2 separate regions of the Homo sapiens genome follow, and region 1 is linked to region 2. The links come from fine-mapping of genetic effects on plasma protein levels. A gene starts in region 2. The other region holds a variant in brackets. All regions are shown on one strand. Distances are between the middles of the regions. Region 1 has its middle 7.9 kb from the start of MTX3. Region 2 holds the start of THBS4 (thrombospondin 4).

Region 1 (12,901 bases), 36 kb after region 2:
CTGCTCAGGCCAATACACAGCAGAGCCTGGACCCCAGTTCTCTAGAATTCACATCTAGTGCTCATTCCTCCGTGCACACTCTTTTTACAAAGTTTAAGATGCTTTGTGGTTTGGGTATATTAAAATACATTAGAAGTGAATTAACTTATTCACAAACTTGTCAGGTCTTGTAAACTAAATTTGGAGTACACTTAATTCAGATAACTGCAAATTTGCTAATTAAATTAACCTTTAACTATGCTTATTTGTATTACACACGGAAATAACAAGCGGCTAAACCTTGAGAAATCCATAATCTATTTCTTTTTGCAAATGTATGAAAAGCTGGAGAATATTAGCGTAAAAGGAAGACATCTACAATGTTTTCTGAATTTTCTGTTTAGTAGCATTAAGGCACTAAAATAAACATTAACAAAAGGAGCTAAGAACAATAAGGAAAACCCACCCTGTCCCAAGATATATCAAGGGCAACTTTTCCGTGTGACCTTTGTTTAATTACTGTCATTTTCTGAGCTCTTATTATTATTCTAAATTTTAGTTTTTTGTTTTGTTTTGTTTTTTTTGGCTGGGCGTGGTGGCTCATGCCTATAATCCCAAGACTTTGGGAGGCCAAGGAGGGTGGATCACCTGAAGTCAAAAGTTTGAGACCAGCCTGGGTAACATGGCGAAACCCCCTCTCTACTAAAAATACAAAAATTAGCCGGGTGTGGTGGTGGGTGCCTGTAATCCCAGCTATTCAGGAGGCTGAGGCAGGAGAATCACTTGAACCCGGGAGGCGGAGGTTGCAGTGAGCCAAGATCACGCCACTGCACTCCACCCTGGGTGACAGAGCGTGACTCTGTCTCAAAAAATAAAATAAAAATAAAAAATAAATAAATTGTTTTTTATTCTTTCACTTGCCATGTGTAATTGAAAAGTGAAAGTTACACATGGTAAGTGAAACAATAAAAAACAATTTAAAATTTAGAATAATAAGAGCTAAATAATACGAAAAGTTGTGGCTTTGCTCTAGTGGATAAACACTTCACTAACCTTTTATCTGTTTGCTTGCTTCTAGTCTTTCCTGAATTTCTAAATCAAACCCGTAGGCCACAGTGGCAGGAGACTATAGCAGATGAGAAGCAACAAGGGGCCACCCTAGTGTCCTGCAAAGGTCTGAGTCTGCGGGACCCAGATCTGCATCTCCAGAATGAACACAGAGAGATGTTCCAGGTCACCAACAGATGGGAGCACCTACCTAGAAGGCAGAATCCTGACTTCCCTAGGCCAGTCCAATGTGGTGCTGGTCCCACTCACAGAATCTGAACAATATCATTTACACACATTCATCATCCTTCTAACATGGATAATCTAAAATTTTCCCATTTTCTCCATTTTGCAGGAGAAAACCAAAACCCTAAATCAACCCTGAATGACACCTGAAAAACCTGGCTTCTAGTTTCAGCTCAGTCATGGTGGATGGGGTTCCCTGCGAAAGCTACTGTCAAATGTGGAAACTGAGGAATCTGACTAGGAGATTTTCAGAACCCTTTTGGCTGTAACGCTTAGTTCCCTTTATCTTCATTCACCTCTCTGGCCCTGAATCATGCAGGTCACATTAGCAACATCCCAAGTATGAATGACCCTCCCTACTACTTACTACCAGATCCTCGCTGTGCTCAGCTACACTTTTAATTTTAAAGAAACAGACTTGTAGAAAAATGTTTAAAACCCGGGATACATGAAGAGCTTCTCCAGAACCTCTCAACAAGCGGCTTTTGATGATAAATACCAGATGCTATAGAGGACGATTAACTATGCAGACAACTTGCATGTAAATTATACAGTAACATAAGAAGGGGGTCTTCAGAGATATGGGATTTCATTTTGAATTTGGCGAAGGCATCTGCTTCTGTCCCCAAAGGGGAGTAGTTTAGAGCTGCTTTAGGTTCATTCATACATATATACTCATTGTTTTTGTTCTTTTCTTCTTGAGGGAATTGCAGGTGCTCTTTTTTTCTTTTTTCTACTGGAAGAACTGCTTTATGTTGGCTGGAGCTGTTTTGTGGCTGGGAAGTAGAGATGAGAATACCATGGCAGCTGCTTGAACCATTTGGTGAGAAACAGGTAGAGAGCTACTCAATCAGGGTAAGAATTGATAAGGAAAACAGCATGATGTGACCTCTAACCTAACCCTTCCAAAAGCTCACTAGGTTCAAAACCATTCCTTCCCTTTTTCTCTCTCTCCCTACTTACTTCTCCTCTTCTTCTCATCCTCTGCCCCTCTGATCTCTTTCTTGCGCCCTCTCATTTCCCTAAATATTGCCCGAATCTCCAATTCACTTTTAAAAGTTTATGAAATGTTTGTAGTATTTAGGCATTTATAAAGGTATAAGGAATAACTCCAGAAACATTAGTTCCTACTACTTAAGTTTGCAGTATTCAAACTGCAAATTACTGAAGCCTCTCCTATATCCCTCTCTTAATAATATCGATTCCCCTACCCTTTCTCCATCCCAGGAGTTAACCACAATATTCTACTTGCCACCCACTCACCTGTAACAGATCATAATATGGAATTTTAAGAAAACACACTTGTTCCTTAGTGAAAAATGTATATTCCCTGTTCTGTTAAGAATCAGGGAATTTAGTTAAAATTTTAAAGAGAAAGACAACATGTTTTTGTTTTTTTTTTTTTCAAATGATCTTTCGTTAACATAACAGTTCCTCTACCCACCTCCTGCTGTAAGGGGTATGCACTAATTAAGTTTCCCAGCACCATCAATGCTATTTTGTTCAGAAGTCTTTTTCTGATTCTGTGTAAATTTTAGACTCTTTTATTTTGTTCTTAGGTTTTCCTTTTTTTTTTTTTTTTTCTCCCTTCTGGAGTTTCCTCAGCTGTCCAGTGTTTCTCTACTATCTCCAATTACAGGACTCACCACAATGCCATTTACTGCTTGGACAATTTCTTCTTGAATATGAAATGCTCTCTCTCCCTGCACTCTGCACCAAGTGATTACAGTTGACTTTCTCTGCACCCTTTCTATTTAAAAGATTTGATGAAAAAGCATGAACATCGTTCACATTAGGATAGAGCATGGGGGTCACTGGGAGGGGACTTCCCAGCTTTTCCGAGGCAGCATGACTGTTATACAAGGCAAAGGTCTTTGGTCTCCTGTTTCTTTTTGGGACATGCTAATGGGTTAGGGGCAGGAGAGTCATCCTTAGTGACTGGGTCTCCCCTGACATCCATTGAGGGTATGTCAGTCTCCAATGCTAGGGCTAGGAGAAACCTCTGTTTTCATTAGGCCCAGCAGATGTGTCTTGGTAGAGGTGCCCTTGAGGTAGTGTGGCCTCAGATTCACATCTTTGTCAGGCAGCTACTGAAGGTAGTGGTTAGATACCAAAGAACAAAACGCCTGTTGTAGGGTACCCACCAGTGTAACCCCAGTATTAGATGCTGGTCAGTTTGTCATTTCACTATTAATGATAGTTAACAAAAGCAGACTGCATGGTATGGTATAAAATATGGGACTAGAAAATGTCTAATCATTGGACTCAAAGTTCAAATTGAAAATAGAGATACTACACTGGCTTTTTCCAAATAATGCTTTTATTATCTTCCAAATTAGTATTGTTTTTCTTCTTATAACTTATTTACATCTTTGGTAAATGGTTAATTTGAAGAATGTCTATGAAGTAAATATGGTTTAATGTAAAAATCATGGCTTTGGAGACAAACAGAACTGGGCAAAAATCCTCATGTAATCACTTTTTGAAACAAGATATTTACCCTTGGTGCCTCCAACTCCAAATTCCTTTGTGTGGGTAAATAGGCCTCTGACTGTGCCTGCAGTCTTATTTCTCATCATTATCTACCGCTCACTTTACCCTCCTGAAATGTTGAATTATACGTAGTTCTCAGACCACAATATACTATTGCTCTATTCCATGTTTTTACTTCAGCTGTTTTCTGTCTGGAACACCTCCCCTGGTACACCTCCTCCAGGAGTGCTTCACTGACACTGTTTCATCCCCAAGCCCTCTGCAGATGGGTGAATAATTCCTCTTCTATAACCTCATAACACTTAATTAATCTCCAACAGCACTCACCACACAAGAGTGGACGTTACTGTGTTTATCTCCTCCATGTACGCCATTCAGTAACAAGAGCTACATCTGATTGATCTTGGTATCACTGGTGCCAGCATTTAGTAAACTTAATAAATATTAGTTGGATTGAAAGGGTTATATCTGCAAAACGAGTATAATACTATCCCTTCAGTTATTGTGAGGAAGAATTCAATAAATGCCACTGCCGGTTCTGTTACCCAAACTTCTAAAATATTTCTAAAACACGGCAACAAATATGTAGTACGTGCAAAGAAAAGATATATTGACAGTCACCTCTAGATGTCGTTTTTGTACTCAAAACATTTTCTGGAGAAAAATATGTTCAACGGAGTTGTAATTATATTTGCCAATTTTAAGATATCATCTGGCTTATGAAATCCAAATAAAGAGATGATGCTCATGGATCAGGTGAGAAGTCTTATTGAGAGTCAACTGGTCTAATTTTTGTAAGCTGTTGGTGATGTCCATAGGTACAAGTTATCTCGAAGAATAAATCTAAAACTAAGCTGTTTTAAAAACAGGTCCAAATATATAATGAAGACATCTACATATAAAAAAAATCAGAGAAAGAAAATCTTTTCTTTAAAATAGAGACCCTCTGGGAATGTTTTCTTTGGCCTCAGGAAGCTTCTACCACAATTCCCGCCCGTAACCCTTCCTCCCCTCACCAGTGCACACACATACGCTCTCTTGGAAGCCTCTCTCCTGGATATTTACACTGAGTTACTGTTCCACACTGGAAATACACCTCTCTGGACTTGATTTGCTCACTCTCATCTTATCCTTTTGGTTTTCAGCGCTATGATTAACCTTGAATGAAAGTTGAAGGTCACTTAATTATCCATACCAACAAATGGAGAAAAAGGCATATAAATTATGCTTATTCATGACAGCCTTACTGTCCCATCCCTAGGATGGAAATGAGAGCTGGGAAATGGAAGGCTGTGGTGGCAATAACAGAAGGCATGACATATTAGGAAGCCAAAAGATGGAAATGCCTTGTAGTCAAGGGGCAGCAAAAGGAGGAAGACTCCAGTTACTGGGTAGATGTGGGAGAAGAAAATGCAATGGAAAGAGAGGACACAGACACCTGAGGAAACTACCATAAGGAGGGGTAGACTTTGTGGTCAAAAGCAAAGGGTAACTTTGAGACATTTGAAACTGAAGAAGCAATAAAAGTTCTGTTCTTGTAATAGTTGAATATGTTTTGTGTCCATCAACTATAAGCATCTATTATGTGCCAACTAAATGCTGTGGGGGATATAAGAGTTAGTTCCTGCATTTGAAGTAAAAATGAGTATGCAGCTTTATGCAGGTGTAATCAAATGGTGTAAGTACAGTAATATAAATTAATAATAATTCATAAGTATTTACATACTGAGACATTTTATCAAGAAGTTAATATGCCATTCTCCCATATACCTACTCAGTATACTTCTTGGGTTGATTTTAATGTTGTTGCCTCAGCACCTTGATGAATAGGGGAAGCAAGACAGTTCCAAAAGCTATGAACAATACCCAACTGTAAACACCATTTCAAACTCATTGGACCCTGTTCTTTCCTCTTCCTAACTCACTTCCATTACTCAAAATGTACGCTAATTTCTTTTAGTTTGCTAAGATGGCATTTAAAGCACTGATGTGAGTAATGACTGACATTTCAAGAGGAATTTCCATAAACTGAGGTATCAGACCAGATATATCTCATTTTACACAACTGACATGATTGTGGATTGAGAGAATTTTTATATATGGACTATTTTTAAATGCTAGGAGACTTTGCTGTTTAAAGCGATTTATGTATAAAGCAAAGAATCCTCCAATAATGAATCTTTCCTCAGGCAAATTTTAAAATGGCAGCATTTCACAAGGCAGGATTTATTTGTTCTTCATTATCGATGGCAGCCTATTAATCTGGAAAAGTAATATAACTCCCTATAAACAATACACATAATGACTTAAGTTCTGAAAATAAGATCATTTTATACACTCATTTTTAAACATTTCAGAAAATGGGATCATATCCATAACTTTTTCAATTACTACCATAAAAAAAGGAGGCATGTGAATTTACTATTTTTGCTCCCTAGTAGACTTGGCTAATCCAATGGAGGAAATATGAATAAATACATCTATTTTTTCCTGTTTGGTGTAAACAAATAAAGCTTGATATAATTATTCCTCACAGGGATAGTATAAGAAATGGATAAGCTATAAACTGTTAATGGGTTTAGAATTATAGTAATTCTTATTATGCCATAGCCCTTAATTTTAGTAATATGGCTGTAAGAACTATTGATCCAGCAAATATACATATATTCAAACAAAGCGTTTTAATATATTGCTTTTTTTTCTTAAAGAAAACTTTGAAATGTATCTTTAGCCAAACAGAGAATGCTGGATTGTTTGTAGTTTATATTAAGGATTCCAGTGATTTCCAAGGTTGACTGAATCCCAGGGGTGTAGTGGGGTTACCCAGTCCTAAGATGATTTCCTGGAGAGCATCTTTACTCCCGGCTGTCCATCCTTATTCATTGTTACTGATTCTAGAGAGCCATGTGGCCACTGAACATAGCTCAGCATCACTTCTGGGAAAACATTTAAATGGCATGGTCTTGCTGATGAAAAGATGTCCGAAATACAAAGTTCCATGAAGGCAGATGGTCCACATTTTTAGCTGCCATCTGGTTGAATGCTCTGGATATTTCATGTGCCCATTTTTTGCATCACATGCCATTACATTACCTTTAATTCTTTTTAAAAACATCTAATTTCAATTAAGTATAGACTCACAGGAAGTTGTAAAATAAATGTACAGGGATGTTTCCCCCAATTGTAACATCTACTGTAACTATTGTACGATATTAAAATCATGAAAATGACATTGGTACAAACCACAGAGTTCATTCAGATTTCACCAATTTTGGGTCTGGGTCTACGTCTGTGTTGCTATGTCTCTTTTTCCTTATAAGGTCACCTTTATTAGGCTGTTATCACATTGCTACAAAGGAATACCTGAAACTGGGTAATTTATGAAGAAAAGAGGTTTAATTGACTCACAACTCCACAGGCTCTACAGGAAACATGGCTGAGGGGGTCTCAGAAAACTTACGATCATGGTGGAAGGCGAAGGCAAAGCAGGCACGTCCCACACAGCTGGAGCAGGAGGAAGAGAGAGAAAGGGGAGATGCGACACATGTTCAAACAACCAGGACTCATGAGAACTCATTATTATGAGAACAGTAAGGGTGGAATCCCTCCTTGATCCAATCACCTCCCATTAGGCCCCTCCTCCAACAGTGGGGATTACAATTCGACATGTGATTTGGGCAGGGACACAAATCCAAACCATATCAGTTACCAATCACTGGATTTGCAGTCTATCCTAATCCAGTATGATTGGGTTGTTTTCTTGTTGTAAGTTTTAAGAGTTATTTGTATGTTTTGGACCCAAGTCCTTTAACAGATATATGTTTTGCAAATTTTTTTCTCCCAGTCTGTGGCTTCTTGTCATTCTCTTAATAGGAAATGTTGTATTTTTATTATCAATTGTATATATTTCTTTTCTGTTGACACTTCCTCTCTGACCCACTGATTACGTAGAAGTATGTTAATTTCCAAGTTTTTGGAGATTTTACTGTTATCTTTCTGTTATTGACTTCTAGTTTAATTCCAGCACAGTCAAGTAATATATTCTGCATTATTTCATTAAAAACTTTTGTTGAGGTTTGCTTTATGACTCATAATAGCCTACTTTGGTGAATGTTATATAGGCTCTTAAAAATAATGTATGTTCTGCTGTCACTGGGTGGGGCATTCCATAAATGTCTATTAGATCCTGTTGTTTAATTCATCTATATCTTTGCTTATTTTTTGTCCAGTAGTTCTATCAATTGCTGAGTGTCGGGTATAACTATAGCTTATGTTATAGTTAAAATTATGGATTTGTCTATTTCTTCTTTCACCTCTATCAGTTTTTGCTTCATGTATTTTGAAGCACTGTTGTTTGGTGCACACATTTGGGATTAATATGTTGTCTTGTGGACTGATCCATTTATCATTATGTAATGTCCTTCATATA[T/C]ACACACACACACACACATACACGCATACTACTTTTTTTTTCCTGATCAATGTTTGCATGGTATAACTTTTCCATCCTTTTAGGTTCCATCTACCAATGTCATGTTTGAAGGAAGTTTCTGAGGGACAGCATACATTTAGCTTAGGTTTTTTATCCACTCTGCCAATTTCTGTCTTTTAATTGGTGTATTGAGATCAACTTTACATTTAGAATAAGTCTTGGTATTTTAGGATTTAAGCCTGCCATTTTGTTACCTGTTTTCTGTTTATTCTCAACTTCTCATCTCTCTGACTACCTCCCCACTTCCAACCTATCACTCCCCTGCTGGCCCCTTGCTTTCTTGTGGGTTACTTGGACTTAAAAAAAAAAAAAAAAACTATTTTGATTTATTTAGTATTTTTGAGTATATCACTTGTATAGTTCTCTTAGTGGCTACTCTCAGTATTATAATATACATATTTAACATCACAGTCTATTGGTATATTAGGTTTTACCACTTTGAGTGAAGTATAGAAATAAGGCTTCCGTTATTTCCATTATTTACTTCCATTATAAGGTCCTTATTTCCACCTAGGACCCTTTACAAACCTCATTTTTTAAGTATAATTGTCCTATTTCCTCAACATAAATTCAGCACAATGTCAGATTATAATATTCTCATTTTGGTTTCATTTAATTCTTTTTCATACAAAAGACAGCAGGTTTACTATGCTGGAGGAGCAAAATGAATCCCTATCAGTATATATTACTGCCTGATCACCTTCACATAGCTACCAAATACATGAACTTGGCTTTTTATGCTTCTGGGTAACAAAGTATCTTTAGAGGAAGCCACACAACTGTACAAATTTAGCTAGACGTCAGGATGGCTGAGCCCCCATCATGCTGAAGCTACAGAGTTCATCTTCTTTCAATTCCTGGGGCAACTCCTAGGGTACCATCCCTCTTCTATCATCCTCAGGACCAACTTTTAAGTGGTACTAAAATCCGGATTTCCAAATAAAACTTTTAAAATAATTGGTAAAATATAAATTGATCTTGTTACATTCTGGGGCCAACTTTATTTCCATTTAAAAAAACTGAATGAATATTTAAAGAATATCTGTTTAAAGAGGCACCTAATCATTAGCCTGCCCATGGCTCTCCCTTGATTTATCGCCTTAATACTAATTTACATTTGACCTTTACGACTGTCAGCAATGCTCCCATTTACTTTTTATTAACCCCTGATATAGTCTCTAAATTATTCCGCCTTTTTTTTTGTGTGTATGTGTGACAGAGTCACTCTGTTGCCCAGGCTGGAGTGCAGTGGTACGATCTTAGCTCACTGCAACCTCTGCCACCTGGGTTCAAGCGACTGTCTTGCCTCAGCCTCCTGAGTAGCTGGGATTACAGGTGTGCGCCACCACATCCAGCTAATTTTTTTTTTTTTTTAGTAGAGATTGTGTTTTACCATGTTGGCCAGGCTGGTCTGGAACTCCTGACCTCAAGTGATCCTCAAGTGGTCTGCCTGCCTTGGCCTCCCAAAATTCTGGGATTACAGGTGTGAGCCACTGTGCCCAGCTGTCTTTTTAAAGCCCCAATCTCTTTCTCTCAGGCACTTTTATTTTTTTTCTAATGTAATAGGGAAATTTGAAGGTAACTGATTTATCTACTCAGCATCCCATAGTTCCCCTTGAAACTTCCTCCAGTGTCAGAAAGAGAGCATGTCTCTCATTTTCAATGCCTGCCAGCCCCGCTGCTCAAGCTCCGGATCTCAGCCTCAACTCTTAGGGCAATTTCTAGGATCCCATCCTTCTTCTCTCCAGCATCTTCAGACTTTTACTCATAATAGCCAATTTTGTCCTCATATGTGTGTAGATTCACCATGTCGTCTCTTTCAAAAACTTTGAGTCTTTCAGTCCTGTCCCATTTCTCTTCTTCCTTTATCAGTCATATTCCTCATGCTCTTAGACCTGTCCTTATCGTTTATACCCTTTTCTCCAGTAATCCCTTGCCACTGGATTTCTAACAACCTCCTCTATCAAAAATGCTCAGCGGAAGGGTGCCAAGTGACCTTCCTCCAATAATATTCAGCAGCATTTTCCACCACACTTTTACTTTATTTAATATAGTTTATGGGTTTATAAAATGCTTCTTCTTATAATGTCCATGTAACAATAGCTGTCTACCTCCCATCCTTGACTATGTAAATCCACTAATATTGTATTTGGACTTTTACTTGTCTTTACTTTCTCAAAACTATAAATTCCCATGCCTTCCAATTCTGGTTCTCAAGTTAGTCAACCAATACTCTCCCTGAGCAGTCTCCAGCTTATAACCAAACCCAGCATTCGTTTACTCATCTTCAGATTCCTTGCCATAGTCAGTCCTGTTTCTATGCCTTCACTTATATAGCACAGCCCATATGCAATGCCTTACTCTGTGCCAATCTAAATGCAACGTACCCACCCTTCGAGATCAGCTATCATCTTCTTTCATTAGGCCTTTGCCAAGCATTGCAGTACATTCAAGCCTTTGTCTAAAACCATACTAGACTTGTCTTCTTGACAAAATGGTACTTCCTAATAGTCTCTAGTTAGTTCAAATATGTGGGCCTTGTTTCATCAACTGTGCCTCTAAAAGCTTGAACATAAGTTTTTGCACAATCACGGCTCACTGCAATCTTCTCCTCCTGGGCTCAAGCCATCCTCCCGCCTCAGCCTCCCAAGTAGCTGAGACTATAGGCACACACCATCATGCCCAGCTATAATTTTTGTGTTTCTGTTGAGACAAGGTTTCATCATGTTGTCCAAGCTTGTCTTGAACTCCTGGGTTCAAGTGATCCTCCCTCCCAAAGTGCTAGGATTACAGGCGAACATAAATTTTTATTCCCTGACAGGCTTGCAGTGTGCTAGGCATACAGAAGCTGCTTAATGAATTCGTTTAATGGTGTAATACTAAACAAATATTATTTACATAAATAATAACAATAATATCATGGCATTGATATCTCCACTTTGGGTGAAACTGGGCTTTTTAATGGACTACACAGGAGGCTACATGAGGCAGTATGACACAGTGGTTAAGAGTATAAACTCTGAAGCCAAAACTGCCTGGGTTCAAATCTTGGTTCTACCACCTACTGGCTATATGGGTACTGATATTTTCTTCTATTTTCAAGGAGGGACACAAAGATGTTAGTTAACCTTAGGAAGGTACCTGTGTCATGAAATCATTATGGAGATAAAGCAAGTTATGTTAGATACTTGAAACAACTTCTGGCATGTAGAAATTGCTCCATAAATGTCAGAAATTATTAAATGTTCATTACACATAAAATGATAGCATCTCAGAGATAAAAGAACTTTTGCTTTATAAATGAATGAGCAGAGGTATCAATGTAAAATGATTGGCCCAAGCGCATATGGCTAATCAGAGGCCAAGTCAAGAACTCAGCTCTCCTTTTTTCTATTCAGTGTTTGTTCTTTCCCCTCCTTAAGGATTTTATATCTGAACACAAATTACAGAATCTTCAAGTTCAAAGGGATATTTAAGACTTTACAATTTAATTTTCCCATAAGGGACCATATACTGTACCATCATTTGTCACAAACCTTTCATCTTTCCCAACAGCACCATTTCCCAGATTCTTAATCACCCAGACAAAAAGAGCCTAACAAACCTTGCACTGTGGCTCCCAAGTTAAGAAACACATGAAGGATGGGTATGGATGCCAAGGTCAGGTTGCCTGAGTTCAGATGACTATCACCAGATGAAACCATTCTTAATGATCATCTTTTGAAAAATAAGATTTCTTTTTTGGGGAAAACACTGTCTGGGATACTCATTATAAAGCTGTGATTCAGGCCATCCCACACAAACATGGATGTTTTGCAGACAGTATTCTTCCCGGTAGGAATCTGAAGTTATGATTTAGATGAACTCTGAACAATACTCTAAAACAGCCAGGAAAAGGCACAGGAGCCAACTAACCATACCAGGCATAATTTCTGAAGGCTTCAATTTTCTGTGTGGTTCTCTGGAACAGTATTCAGCCTGTTTGTGCAATCAGCTATGTTAGAGTTTTTTAAATTCAATCTAACAGATACAGACTCTCAAGAGGAACTGCAGCAATAAAAGATTGCTATTATCTATGCACTAATAAACCTGTGTGTAAGGATTCTTTCATCAGATGCAATGACATGCTATTCTGTCTCAATTCAACACTAAGGGAAGAGATTTAATTTCTCTTTAATGCAAATGAAATCACTGTATGTAGTAGCAGCAGTACGGAAGAAGGCCAAACTGAGTAACTGTGTTATGTGTCCACTAAGAATGTTCATTCACTCCTCTCAGTCCTGCTACAAACAAGGCTCAGGAAATCCACATTCTTTCTGTATGATTGTTTTAAATGCCTGAATGTAGTATATGGACCCTCAGCTTTATGGCTTAGGATTTTCTTTCCCCCTGCCTTGCCTTTGTCAGTCTATGGTTTGACATTTCTAACCCTCAAAACAGGGAGGTTCCATTACAATCTGAAAGTTGAATTACTTTACTTTCTTTATACTGAAGACTCAACAGATAGTCTCCACTGATCACACAGAGGATGCACTGTCCCTCCTTTGTGTTTCTGTAGTATTTTGCTTATATTTCTAACCCTACTCGTGATTATCTGACTTGTTACACCTTGGTGTGTGTATATCTCCTTTGTGCACTGTAAACTCC
Region 2 (12,901 bases):
ATTAGAAACTTCTTTCATTTCCTAATGCCTGCAGATTTAAGTGTACAATCACAAATATAATCTAAGAGAGAGTTTGAAGCACTAGGAAGTGTCCACTTTGTAAAGCAAACTGAAATAAACATAAAACCCAGCCAGAAGAACCAGCCCTCCTATTTTATTAAATGCATGAAGCAGCAGGAACACGCATCTGTCACATTCCTTAATAAACAGGAACAGGTGTTGTCCCCCGGGGAAGGAGTGGAGGAGAAGGCAATGAAAAATAGTGACCATTTTCTTTGGGACTCACTTCTCAGTGCTTATAGTAACTCACTACGGCAACAAAACAAATGACAGCAGAGGGATCAAACCAGTGACAGGCCTGTGTAAATTGGCACGCACAGGGAGAAAAGAGCCCTATTCATCCTGTTCTACTGGTTGAGGTATATTCTTTCCATCACGGCCAGGTAGGTGCTTAAGGAGTTAGGAGCTAGGTCTACTGAGCACTGGCTTCAAAGGGAACATAAGAATAGTATGGGGTGGCTGTCATGGGCTGAATGTTTGTATCTGTCCCCTTCCTCCCGCCCCATCAAATTCATATACTGAACTCCTAATCTCCAGTGTGATGGTATTTGGAGGTGGGGCTTTTGGGAGATGATTAGGTTTAGATGAGGTCCTGAGGGTGTGGCCCTCATGATGGGAATAGTGACTTTATAAGAAGAGACACAAGAGAGCTTGCTGTCTGTCTTCATCATGTGAGGACACAATAAAAAGATGGCCATCTACAATCCAGGAACTGGGCCCTTACAAGGAGCCAAATCTGCGGGTGGTATGGTTTGGATATGGTATGTCTGTCCCTGTCAAAACTCGTGCTGAAATTTGGTCCCCAATGTGGCGGTGTTGGGAGGTAGGGCCTTGTGGGAGGCATATGAATTATGGGATTGGATCTCTCATGAATGGCTTGGTGCTGTTCTCGAGACAGTGAGTTTCAGCTCTTGTGAAAATGGATTAGTTCTCAAGGGAATGAATTAGTTCTTGAGAGAGTGGGTTATTATAAAGCTACGGTGCCCCTCAGGTTTTCCCCTCTTCCCATGTGTCTGCTCCCTCTTTGACCTTCTCCACCACGTTGTGACACAAGAAAGTCCTTGTCAGAAGCCAGGGCCATGCCCTTGAACTTCCAGCCTGCAGGACTGTGAGCTAAATAAATCTCTTTTCTTTATAAATTACCCAGTCTCCGGTAGTCTTTTATAGCAACACAAAATGGACTGAGATGGCACCATGATCTTAGACTTACCACTGTCTAGAACTGTGAGATGTAAATGTCTATTGTTTAAGCCACAAAGTCTATGGTATTTTGTTATAGCAGCCTGAGCTGCCTAAGATAATGGCTGAATTGTCCCTTGTCCTCTCTGTTCCAGAACTGGATTCAGAATAACATCAGGATGAGACAATGTCAAAAAGCATCTTGGTCACAGCAATTCTTTTTTTCTCCCAATGTCACTTTCTTCCTGAACCGCCCCCCACCCCCCCGCCAATATAGGTAAATGTACAGTAAGAAGAATTCAGTATTAAAAACTGAAATGACTAGTGAGTGAGAATATAATTGTACAAGGAAACCATCTCAAAGACAGTATACCCCTAATCCTGGAATAGAAAAAGGAGATTTTTAAGAAAATAATTTCAGCAAATTTGCTTACCTTTGTTTAAGCGTCCCATCACAGTAAATTCAAAATATTTACTGTTGTCAGTTGAAGAGTAAAGACCGAAGATGGTGGCTGAACTTTTAGTCTGCAGCTTGAAGGTGGAAATCACATAGAGATCATTCAGGGCGGGGTCTGTCAGGACTGGCAGCAGAGCGCCTGGGTTTAGCCTCTGACTGGAAGATGGGAGAAGGTCAAAGACTGGGAAGAAGGGAGAAGAAGGGGTATAAGTGAAAGATTCAATTTTGGGGAAAACAGGGTTTCTTTGTTTGGGGGGGGTGCAATTTGACAGTAAGCTACAAAGTAATGTAAACTAATCTTGTAATCCCTTTTCCGTATTGCCAAACTCACCAGTTCTTCCCTGTCACTTTTATAGTGGCTGGACATTTGAGCCAGAAGAAATACAGCACAATATTCATCACTGGGTGTAGCCCTCAAGAGAGAGGACTGAATTTGCAAACACATAATTGGGTTTGGCTGAACAAGTAGCTCTGAAAATGCCCACCAGGAAAAGCACTAAAGGCTTAAAGTACAAGGGGGACTGGTGAAAGCATCCAAGCCATTGCTTTACTGATGTCCCCAAGCAGTGAATTTCTGTCACGGAGTCCCATAGGCACCTCCAGGACCAGAGCCAATTGTGTTTTCCTGGTCAGTGACAAATGACAGGAAATGCAGCAGAAAACATGGCTATGGTGGTAGATGTGCTGGTAGAAAGTGATTTGCCACCTTTGTGAGACCTAAGTGTTCCCTTTGTGCCTTTACAATTCTCCAACATTTCTCTGTTTAAAAAAATCCCAATGTGGAAACAAAACAAAACAAAATGATGTGGTTTCTGTCTCTTGACTGATAGAATTGCTCTACAAAAATCAGAATCTGCATTTGTATTTGTATAAGTTGCTTTTGATCAAGCAAGCAGTACTTTCTCTCACAAACTTTGTAATATTTATGAAAGCTATGAGAGAGTATGCCCAGAGTCATTTAAAAGGCAAAGGCCAAATTTGGGTAATACTCAGTGGAAGTTATTTAGTATATCTATTAGCAGACGCAAATATCATTTGAACAATTCCATAGGCTGCAGAAACTTCAGCACCTACAGCTGTCTCTTGGATATAATAATCTGGTTATTAAATGGGTAATATTGACAATTGATAAAGAGTTCTTACAAATCAATAAAATGATAAGCATCTTAATAGAAAAATGGGCAAGGAATATGAAAAGGCAATTTACATAAAAAGAATTACAATGACCATTAAGTATATAAATAAATGTTCATGTATTTACCTAATGATGCAGGAGTTGCTAACTTAAACAATAACGTATTGTTTTCACCATCGAATTGGAAAATTAGTAAATACAACAGTACTCAACTGTTTGTGAGGGTTCAGGGAAATGGGCACTCTCTGTACCACTGTGTAACATTTAAACTAGTATAAACATTTTGAAGACAGTTTAAACAACAGTATCAAAGGCCCTAAAACATATGTGCTCCTTGATCTAGCAATTCTGCTTATGGGAATTTATCCTAGGGAAATAATGGATAACATGGTAAATGATTTAGGTACAAGAATATTAGACACTAGTGGTAATTCTAGAATTTCTATTTAGGAAAGAATTAGGTGAAAATCTAATTGGAAGAGAGGTAAACCTGAGCTCTGTTGGCATAGCATTTTGCTATGAAAACATTAACTGTCCTTAGCAAAAAAAAAGAGAAGGGCTTGGCTGAGATTGAGGGGATGGTTAAACTCATCCCAAACCATCCTGTGACACCTGCACTTGTTCAATAAATTAATATTTACAATATCAAAACCGAAAACAACTTAAGGGTTCTATATTACAACCCTGGCTAAATACATTTTGATTCTTCCAAAAAGCAGAATACTACCTATTTTTAAAATGTAGCTGAATACTTACAGATGTGAAAAGATGTTCATGATACATTAAGAAAAAAGGATTCTAAAACTATATGTATAACGTAATTCCATTTGAAATATATTTTTGCATAGAAAAATATTTGAAATGAAAGACAATACAACAACATGTTAATGTTAATAGAAGCTATCCCCGGGTTGCATAAATATAAGTTTTAAATTTCCTCTTTTCTTTTTATTTTATTTTTTGCTTATCTAACTTTAATCTTTTCTACAATGGGCAGGTATTGCTTTTGTAATAAGAATGAATAAAAGTTCTAAAGCAAACAGGCAAAAACCTAGTTACTCAAGAATATTTACCCCTTTTAAAAGACAATTTGTCTTCAAACTGGATCTATACTGTATTTTTCACATGTACCAGGGGTCCTTACACAATAATGAAATTAACATGAGATGTGTTGGAAAGCAGAACATTTACTGTGCTCCTCTTAGTGCCTATATCCCTAAACCATAAACACTGTTGCCTACTGCATTTCAAAAGGGAAATTGGATTTTTTAATTTTCAAGAGAATTGGAAACTTTACATTTCCACTAATGAGGGCAAAGGGAAATAAGGCAATATGTTTTAAAGTTCCATTCAGGACAAAACATCTTCAGAAAAGAGATATGTATTTAAAGTATGGGAACTACATTCAAAACAAAATTCTTAGTACTCTTGATTCTTCCTTTGACTATGATCAGGTTCATGATGTAACTCAAGCTAAACTTGCGGTATTTCAATCTATGGTTCGTCTGATTCATTTGCATCTCTCTCAAGCGGCAGAGATGGGATTAGTTAGTAATGAACATAGAGAGTGTTTTGAAAAGGAAATGAGACACTACCATTTTCTATTAATGTTATTACGTTTAAGTGCCAGGATCAAAGCACAACCCTCTACTGTTAGAGGTGAAATTACTGCTACCAATGAGCGCAGCTACCATGGTATGTAAATTGAATATATACTAATTTAAGACCAACAATGAAGCTCAGGGGAAGAAGGAGATAATCAAATTATCCTGTTAAGCCTGATAATTGCAGACTAGATAATGCAATAAAAGAATCTATCAGAAACTTAACTTAATCAGATCATCTACAGCAACTAAATTACCCAGATAATTTAGGTTGTATAGGCCGAGTTCAAATCTCCATAAAATGGTCAGGTATGTCTGAGACATACCTAAGGCACACCATAAAGCTGTATGTTCAAAAGTCAAGAACGTATATAACACAAAAAAATTATACCTATAAATTTGAACTTGCCAAATATCATCACAATAAGACTTTTGAAGTGTTTAAAAGCTTCCTTTTTTACCTTCCTAGAAGTATGGGGCACGGACTACAGCATTTCAAATACTTCAACACAAACTAAAAGTTAGCAGTACTCTAACCCCTGAAACCACAGTTCTGGTTGTCTGGTCTGGAATGAAAATGAGTTATTTGGCGAAATGCAGTTTAAATGGGTGATTCCAGCAGCGAGAGGCAGGGAAGTTGAGAACGCCCTCATAGGCAGTCTTTGCTCTGGCTACAAGAGGAAAAACAACTTTTACTTCAAGTTGTGCGTCTCTTCCAGTTTTACTTCCACAGTCAGTAATAAATCAACCCAGGCACCAAGTTCAAACAGATGAAGCTCACGCCTGACCAGTTAGGGCCAGTTATAGCCCTAAGATCTTTCTTTGCTTAAATCATGTCTTCCTTTTGGTCTTTACAAAAAATTCTGTTTAACTGCTTTCTACCCAATGGCTATTTCACCCCATTTCACCAAGGGGTTTGAGGATTGTCCAAGTATCTTTTCACATTATTTGTTGAATTTTTACCGTTTCATAGAAAAAGATCAATTTCTTTCTTTTTTCTTTTTAAATTATAGATTCAGAGGGTACATGTGCAAGTTTGTTACATGGGTGCATTGCATAAGGTGGGATTTGAGCTTCTAGTGAACACATCACCCAGTGAACGTAGTACCCAATTGGTAGTTTTCCCAACCTTCCCCCCTACTTTTGGAGTCCCCAGTGTCTACTGTTTCCATCTTTATGTCCATATCTATCCACTGCTTAGCTCCCGCTTGTGAGAACATGGTATTTGCTTTTCTGTTCCTGCCTTAATCCACTTAGGAAAATGGCCTCCAGCTGCATCCATCTTGCTGCAAAGAACTGATTTCATTGAAAAAGACCAGTTTCTCAGCCCTTCCTATTTACCTCAGAAATTAAGACATCAAGCCAATCCTTGAAATAAACTTTCTTTTTGTCGTTCAAGCAAAGTCAGAGCAGAAAATGCAGGTGGCAGGGCAAGTAGAGTAATTCTGCGTCTTTCTCAGGGATGTCAAGAGCAGACTCTGGGCATACATCGCTCCGCCTGAGGAAGGATTTAGGGAGCAAGGCTGCCTGGAGGGAACCGGCACAGGGTGCAGGACCCGGAATTCACCCTACACCAGAGCCTAACATGTTAAGAGGTCTAGGACCGTGTAGCAAGTTTTGAAGGCAACCCCACCCCACATCTTTGCATAGTCTGAAACAATTTTGCATCCCCCAACTATTTAGGCAATTGTTCTCATCATTGGATAATCGAATTTCGGAAAATTCTAGACTAATCACTACCTCCAATCACAATATGCTTTGATTGGGCCCGGGAGGGACAGAGAGGGGCTGAGCAAGGCCACAGGAGCACAGGGCCGAGCAAGTCCCTCCACTCACTCAGCAGATGGGGCACCCGGTGCCCGGCGCTCCCAGGCCCGACCCGAACCCACTTACCCTGGGGGGTGGCCTGGGCGCCTGCCGCTAGCCACCGCTGCAGGACCAGGTGCAGCAGGAGGACGGCGGCTCCGCGCGGGGCCAGCATGTTGGCTCTTCCTGCTCCCCGCGAGGCCGGGGGCGACGGCGGCGTTGGCCCCGCCTGGGGGTCCCCGGGCCGTGCGTTGAACCTCGGTCGGCGCCCGGGCCGGCGCCGCAGGTGACCCGTGCTCGGCGTCCGGGCTGCCGTCGGGGGCGCGCTCGCGTCCCCGCCGTGCGGTGCTGGGGAGCTGGCTGCTGGGCTCCGCGGCAGCGGCCGGGCGCTTTATGGTGCGGCCGGGCGGGGGAGGGCCGGGGCGGGGGCGGCCCCCTTGGCGGGATCCCCTGTCCTGGGAAGAGCTGGGCAGCTGGAGCAGCGAGCCGGGGCCGCAGGGAGAAAGGCGCGGGTGTGAGGATGGGAAGGAGCCTGGACGGACCAGGTCCTGGGGTGGGTGTAGACACGGCCCCGACGCGCGAGGGTAGGGGCGAAGATGGGCAGTCGGGGCTGGAGAGAAAGGGGTGCTGAGCAGAGACCACAGGGGAGAAAGGAGCGGGAGGAAAGGGGCGAAAGGGAGGAAGAAAGTGACACTGACCCACTAGCTTTGGGCACCTTCAGTCCCCTACTCCTTGCGCTCCTTTTGTTTTCTAAAAAGAAGAATATCCTTTGGATCGGCTTTGAATGCCCACCTTGGGTTCCCTTGCGAATGAATCCTGAAGTTCTCCAGGAACGCTCTGCCTCCTAAAGTGGCCCAGAGAGCAGCGAGTTTCTTTTATTTCTTCAAGCTTTTCTTGAATACTTGAAAGGCTGAATTTTTTTCTCTATCATTTTGAGACACAGTGAAAGTTTGAAAGTTGTTGTGTTTTTAATGGAGATAAAACACATCTCAAGGAATCCATCCAGACAGAGCCATTTCTAGGCTGGTGAATCTGTGCTTTATGGATAATTCGTTTTCAGTATGGTTTCCAAACGCCCTGCTTGCCCACCTCTATTCCTCTGTCACCAAAGATTCCGTGTGACAGTTTAAAGGTACGGGAGTAGAACTTGAAAGAGATCGGAGGAACGCAAGTAATTCGTCCTTTTCCTGGGCAAAGCTCCCGGAATGATATGGATTAACTAGAGGAAAAAATATTTGATAAACAGTGGCAAAAATTTCTCCTCTGTAACAATCTCGACTAATGGAGAACATCCAGCAAAGTATTGCTATCTCTTTTATGTCTCAAATAATTCCATTTCAAAGTTTAATAAGCCACAAACTGGGAGATTAATGCACCATTTTATCCCCAAACTGTGCTAAAATAACCTGACACCAATTATCACTCAATTTACAGCTAGCGACTTGGAGATTTGTGAGCTATCTGCAGAGCTCTCTAATATGTAAGGTCCAATACAGGTCTATCCAGGGTTCCTTTAATGCCACATTACACTACAGTCACTCTTTGGAATGGGGCATATGTCTACACATGAGAGAACACTGAGAGACACAGAGGATGTGCATAAATATCGACTAATGAGATAAACTAGATTTGGGAACATTCAAATCTCCAGACCATGTTCCCAGGAGTGGCCTGGGTTTGAGAGGAATCTAGGCTCCCAAGCTACGCTTCAAGCAGAACAGCCTTGCCTTTCTATGTTTTTACAGTAGACTTCAGAGATTAAGATTTTCTGTGAAGACAATATTTGGATGCTCAAAATTTTGAAAGCCACTATTCAGTGGTTCTCAGCTGATTGGGTATACCAGAATCTCCTGGGGAATTTAAAAAACAGTGATTAGGTGCCTACAGGGAACAAATGAAACCAAACATCAAAAGCAGCAATATGCTATATCACACCATAGACTACTCTGATACATAAAATAGGGTTACTCCTTAAATGAGTCACCAAGCAAGCCTAGTGGATGCCTGTGAGAGTTCTTGTGTAGTGTGCCACCAGACACTGCCTGTTTCCTCTCAGATCTGGTGCTCACCTTCCACTGCATGCTTGTCAGCAGTCTAGATAAAATGGGAGACTAGAGAGCAATAAGAAGGTAGAAGGTAGACACTAGAGTATTTACTTCTCTGTGACCTGAATGGATGCATCTTCTTTGTGACTCTTGCAGGTGGGGTCCACCATGATTCTAGCTTCTGCCTTCTCACCATTTGCACCCTCCAGCCATGACATTGGAGGTCACTTACTGCAGTTGCTAAAATGTGGATTGCCTCACTCTTCTGTTTGACATCTCAGTTCTTCTACTATATATGTAATCATTTCCCTGTATTAAATTTCTTCTATTTAAAATACCTAGAGTATTTGCTAGGAATCTCCATGGTGAGGACAATGCACCACGTGCTGCTGGAGGTAGATGTGTTGGAGGGCACCCTGCAGTGCCCAGAGTCTGGACGTGTGTTCCCCATCAGCCGCAGGATCCCCAACATGCTGCTGAATGATGAGGAAACAGAGTTGATCATGCCAGGTGCCAGTTTTTCTTTTTATGACCGTGTGTATTTTTGTTGATGTTACCCTGTTTCTGAATTCTGCCATGTGTGTCCCCAACCCTTGACCCAATGACACACCAGACGCACGGTGTTCTTGAGCACAATAGTATTTTTTCTCATTAAAGATTCAAAACCAAAACAAACAAACAACAAAAAAACTAGGAATTTTCGATCCTAGCAAATTCCCAGCAAAATAGCTTGCACATCATGATGGTTAATGTTGAGTGTCAACTTGACTGGATTGAAGGATGTAAAGTATGGCTCCTGTGTGTGTCTGTGAGGGTGCTGCCAAAGGAGATTAACACCTGAGTCAGTGGACTGGGAAAGGCGGACCCACCCTCAATCTGGGTAGGCACCATCTAATCAGCTGCCAGCATGGCTAGAATAAAGCAGGCAGGAGAAGACGGAAGAGCAGACTTGCTGCGTCTTCTGGCCTTGATCTTTTTCTGTGCTGGATGCTTCCTGCCCGCAAACATTAGACTCCAAGTTCTTCAGCTTTTGGACTCTTGGACCTACATTAGTGATTTGCCAGGGGCTGTTGGGCCTTCAGCCACAGACTAAAGGTTGCACTGTCAGCTTCCCTACTTGAGGTGTTGGGACTCAGTCTGGCTTCCTTGCTCCTCAGCTTGCAGACGGCCTATTGTGGGACTTCATCTTGTGATCGTGCGTCAATACTCCTTAATAAACTCCCCTTCCTATCTATCCTGTTAGTTCTGTCCCTCTAGAGAACTCTGACTAATACACACATATAGGCACACAATAAATTTTGGTTGACTACTAAGTGTAACGGAAAAACAAAAGAATCAAATGACTTTCTGTTAGCCTAACAGAATTTACAATCTGGTTTTGCTTTTAGAGGGCTTGCATTTTTATGCAGCCATTCGCTAGGGAGTCTCAGTAAACTTTATGTCCTCAGGTCTACAGTAAATTTGATTATAATAAAATTAATTTAATTAGCTATGAAATATATGATAAAGGAGACAAAAGAGTTTATTTTCATTTCCATGCCACTTCTTATTAAAATATCTATTCATGTACTTACATTGGATTTTATTTCATTTATTTTAATAATGTATTAATTTGTTTGATTTTTTTTCCAGTATCCAACTGTGAGCTCCTTAGGATTATCTCATTTAGTTTTGTAACTCTAATTCCAAGTACAGTACCTAACATTTAGTAGTAAATATATCATTGAATTGACTTTCCTTCTCTTAATACTGTAATCTAGGATAAGAGTTGTGACATATTAGTAATCCATTAATAGGTGCAGTAGGTTACAAAAATGGCCCCAATTCTTTGCTCTTCTGTGTACACATCTTTTATTTTTCTGTGTACACATCTCATGGCTTGGCCACGTAACATGCTTGGCCAACAGGATTTTGGCAAAAGTGCCACAAGCAGAGGCTTAAAAAGTGCTTGTGTTATTGGGCTGGTTTACTCCTGCACCTTTGCCTTTGCCATGATAGCATGCCTGTGCTGGCCTACTGGAGGATGAGAGACATAGAGCAGGGTATAGCCCACCCCTGGCAAAGCCAGCCAAGATCAAGCTGACAGATGAATGAGTTCAGGCAAGATCAGCAGAGCTGTTTAGTTGACTCCAGATGTGTGAGCAGGACACATTTATTTTTGTATACCATTGAGGTTTGGGGGTTGTTTGTTATGTAACAATATTGTAGCAATAGAGAACTGATATACTACATTTTATTTCTTTTCTAATTGTTGTAATACAGAGTATGACTTAATTTTTGATGTTTGACTGCAGACAGTTCTCAAGCCCCACCACTTCCCTTCCTCTCTGCCCCACATCTGAGCAAACTGATAAGAATGCCTAGGTGCTCCTTCCTTGGCACTAGCACAAAGTTCCAACAGTAAGCCCTAGCCCATGTACAGGAACCCTCACCACAGCCCCACTCCTAACCACAATAAGAATCCCAAAGCCATTCTCCTTTCTTGTTCTCTCTAGTTTTCAGACCAGCTTGGAAGCCCATCTTACTCTCCCCCAAAAAAACGTATTATGTGAGCAATAAACCTTTCAAACCCCTTTGCTGCATGTGTGATGGCATTATTGATTTTGATATCCAAACCCAATTTTGAGAGTGGGGATCTATCCTGCTCCTGTGCGGTGACTATAGCACCATTCTTCGCAAGTGGGGGAAATCACCCATACTGTGCACTGATATTTGGCACAACTAAGTAGAAGTTTTATACATATGTGTTAATTGATATAGGTATAATAAAAAAGTTACCATTATTTATGTCAGGTTTTCCACTTGAATTTTTGAAGGAAACAGAAATGGATATAATTATTAACATTAAAAGATGGATAAAGGGGCCAGGCATGGAGGCTCATGCCTATAATCTCAGCACTTAGGATGCCAAGGTGGGAGAATCACTTGAGCCAGGAGCTGGAGACCAACCTGGGCAACATAGTGAGACCTCATCTCTATAAAAATAAAAATTAAAAAATCAGGCCAGGCGCAGTAGCTCACACCTATAATCTCAGCACTTTGGGAGGCCGAGGCCGGTGGATCACAAGGTCAGGAGTTCGAGACCAGCCTGGCCAACATGGTGAAACCCCGTCTCTACTAAAAATACAAACAATTAGCCAGGCATGGTGGTGGGCACCTGTAATCCTAGCTACTCAGGAGGCTGAGGCAGGAGAATCGCTTGAACCCGGGAGGTGGAGGTTGCAGTGAGCCGAGATTGCACCACTGCACTCCAGCCCAGGCAACAGTGTGAGACTCTGTCTCAAAAAAAAAAATTAAAAAATTAGTTAGCCATGGTGGTGCCCACCTGTGGCCCCAGGAACTTGGGAGGCTGGGGTGACAGAATTGCTTGGGCCCAGGAGGTTGAGACTGCAGTGAAAGCCATGATCATGCCACTGCATTCCAGCCTGGGCCACGGAGCAAGACCCTGTCCAAAAAAATAAAAATAATAAAAAAAAAAGATGTTTACATTCTACCGTGTGATGACATTTATACTCTAGCACTGGGAAAGGCAGACTTTGGACTCCTATTTAGTTTACTATTAATAATAAAGGAAGGTGCTTAAGTGACAGGAAAAAAGCTATTCCAAAAACTACTTAGCACAGATAAGGTCTCTGTAAATGAAGCTGGAGTCTTTTGATTAGTGTGCAATTCAAAGTAGAATTTCCTATTATTTTTTTTTGAGATGGAGTCTCGCTGTCGCCCAGGCTGGAGTGCAGCAGCGCGATCTCGGCTTACTGCAACCTCCGCCTCCCGGGTTCACGCCATTCTCCTATCTCAGCCTCCCGAGTAGCTGGGACTAAAGGTGCCCACCACCATGCCCGGCTAATTTTTTTTTTTTTTTTTGTATTTTTAGTAGAGACGGGGTTTCACCATGTTAGCCAGGATGGTCTCAATCTCCTGACCTCACGATCAGCCCGCCTCGGCCTCCCAAAGTGCTGGGATTACAGGCGTGAGCCACCGCGCCTGGCCCAAAGTAGAATTTCCTCCCCAGAATTTAGAAGATATTTTGCTTTAGCAATTAGGCACTGACGATTAGTAAAGCAAGAAAAGAGGTGTGAAAAATCAGTCATTTTCAATCTAAGGGTCTCTATAAAAAAATTATCATTAACCTCTTTAATATATTTTACTAAATAAAGTGTAAAATCCTTAGAAAAATAGCCAGAAATCAATTGTGAGGACATGTTACAATTAATAATTATGTATACATTTAATAATTATGTATATACCAAACTTGAAGTCCAGAGAGAGTTTATAACAACTAGGATCTCTTAAAGTAATTGCTTGCCTTCATTAAACAACACATTTATCCATCCATATGGTGGTTCCTGCAATGTCTAATGATAACAATGATTATCGTGCCAGGAATATCCCTTACTGAGTGCCAGGTGTCTAGATGTATTTGCTAAGAAAATATGATGTGGAGTGTAATGAATTAATATGGCATAAAACAAACTTGCAAAATACACGAAAATTACATGAATTTGGATCCTGCCTCAGCCTCCCAAGTAGCTGGGAATTTTGGATAGTTTGATTTTATTTGGGCTGAAGTTCATCTATGGGGAAAAAATGGTTTGCAAGCAAATGAATAGTATTA

The links. A credible set is the group of variants that fine-mapping cannot tell apart. PIP is the chance, under the fine-mapping model, that this variant and not a neighbour inherited with it causes the effect. The UK Biobank Pharma Proteomics Project read protein levels with antibody pairs (Olink). The fine-mapping took linkage between variants from a reference panel, not from the people measured, so its PIPs are less certain.
Region 1: its variant is the best candidate, but not a certain one, in a credible set for the plasma level of the THBS4 protein (UK Biobank, PIP 0.72).

What each region holds. Positions count from the first base shown.
Region 1 is chr5:79,992,700-80,005,600 of GRCh38, reverse strand. It overlaps a transcript of THBS4 not described here. Among named protein-coding and RNA genes, the nearest start is that of MTX3, 7.9 kb to the right of the region's middle. The variant T/C (reference allele first, on the strand shown) is at 8,195.
Region 2 is chr5:80,029,053-80,041,953 of GRCh38, reverse strand. It overlaps THBS4 (thrombospondin 4), which reads right to left and starts at 6,606. Exons shown (of 22, transcript NM_003248.6): 1 at 6,329-6,606; 2 at 1,674-1,877. The coding sequence starts at 6,416. It also overlaps the pseudogene TRMT112P2.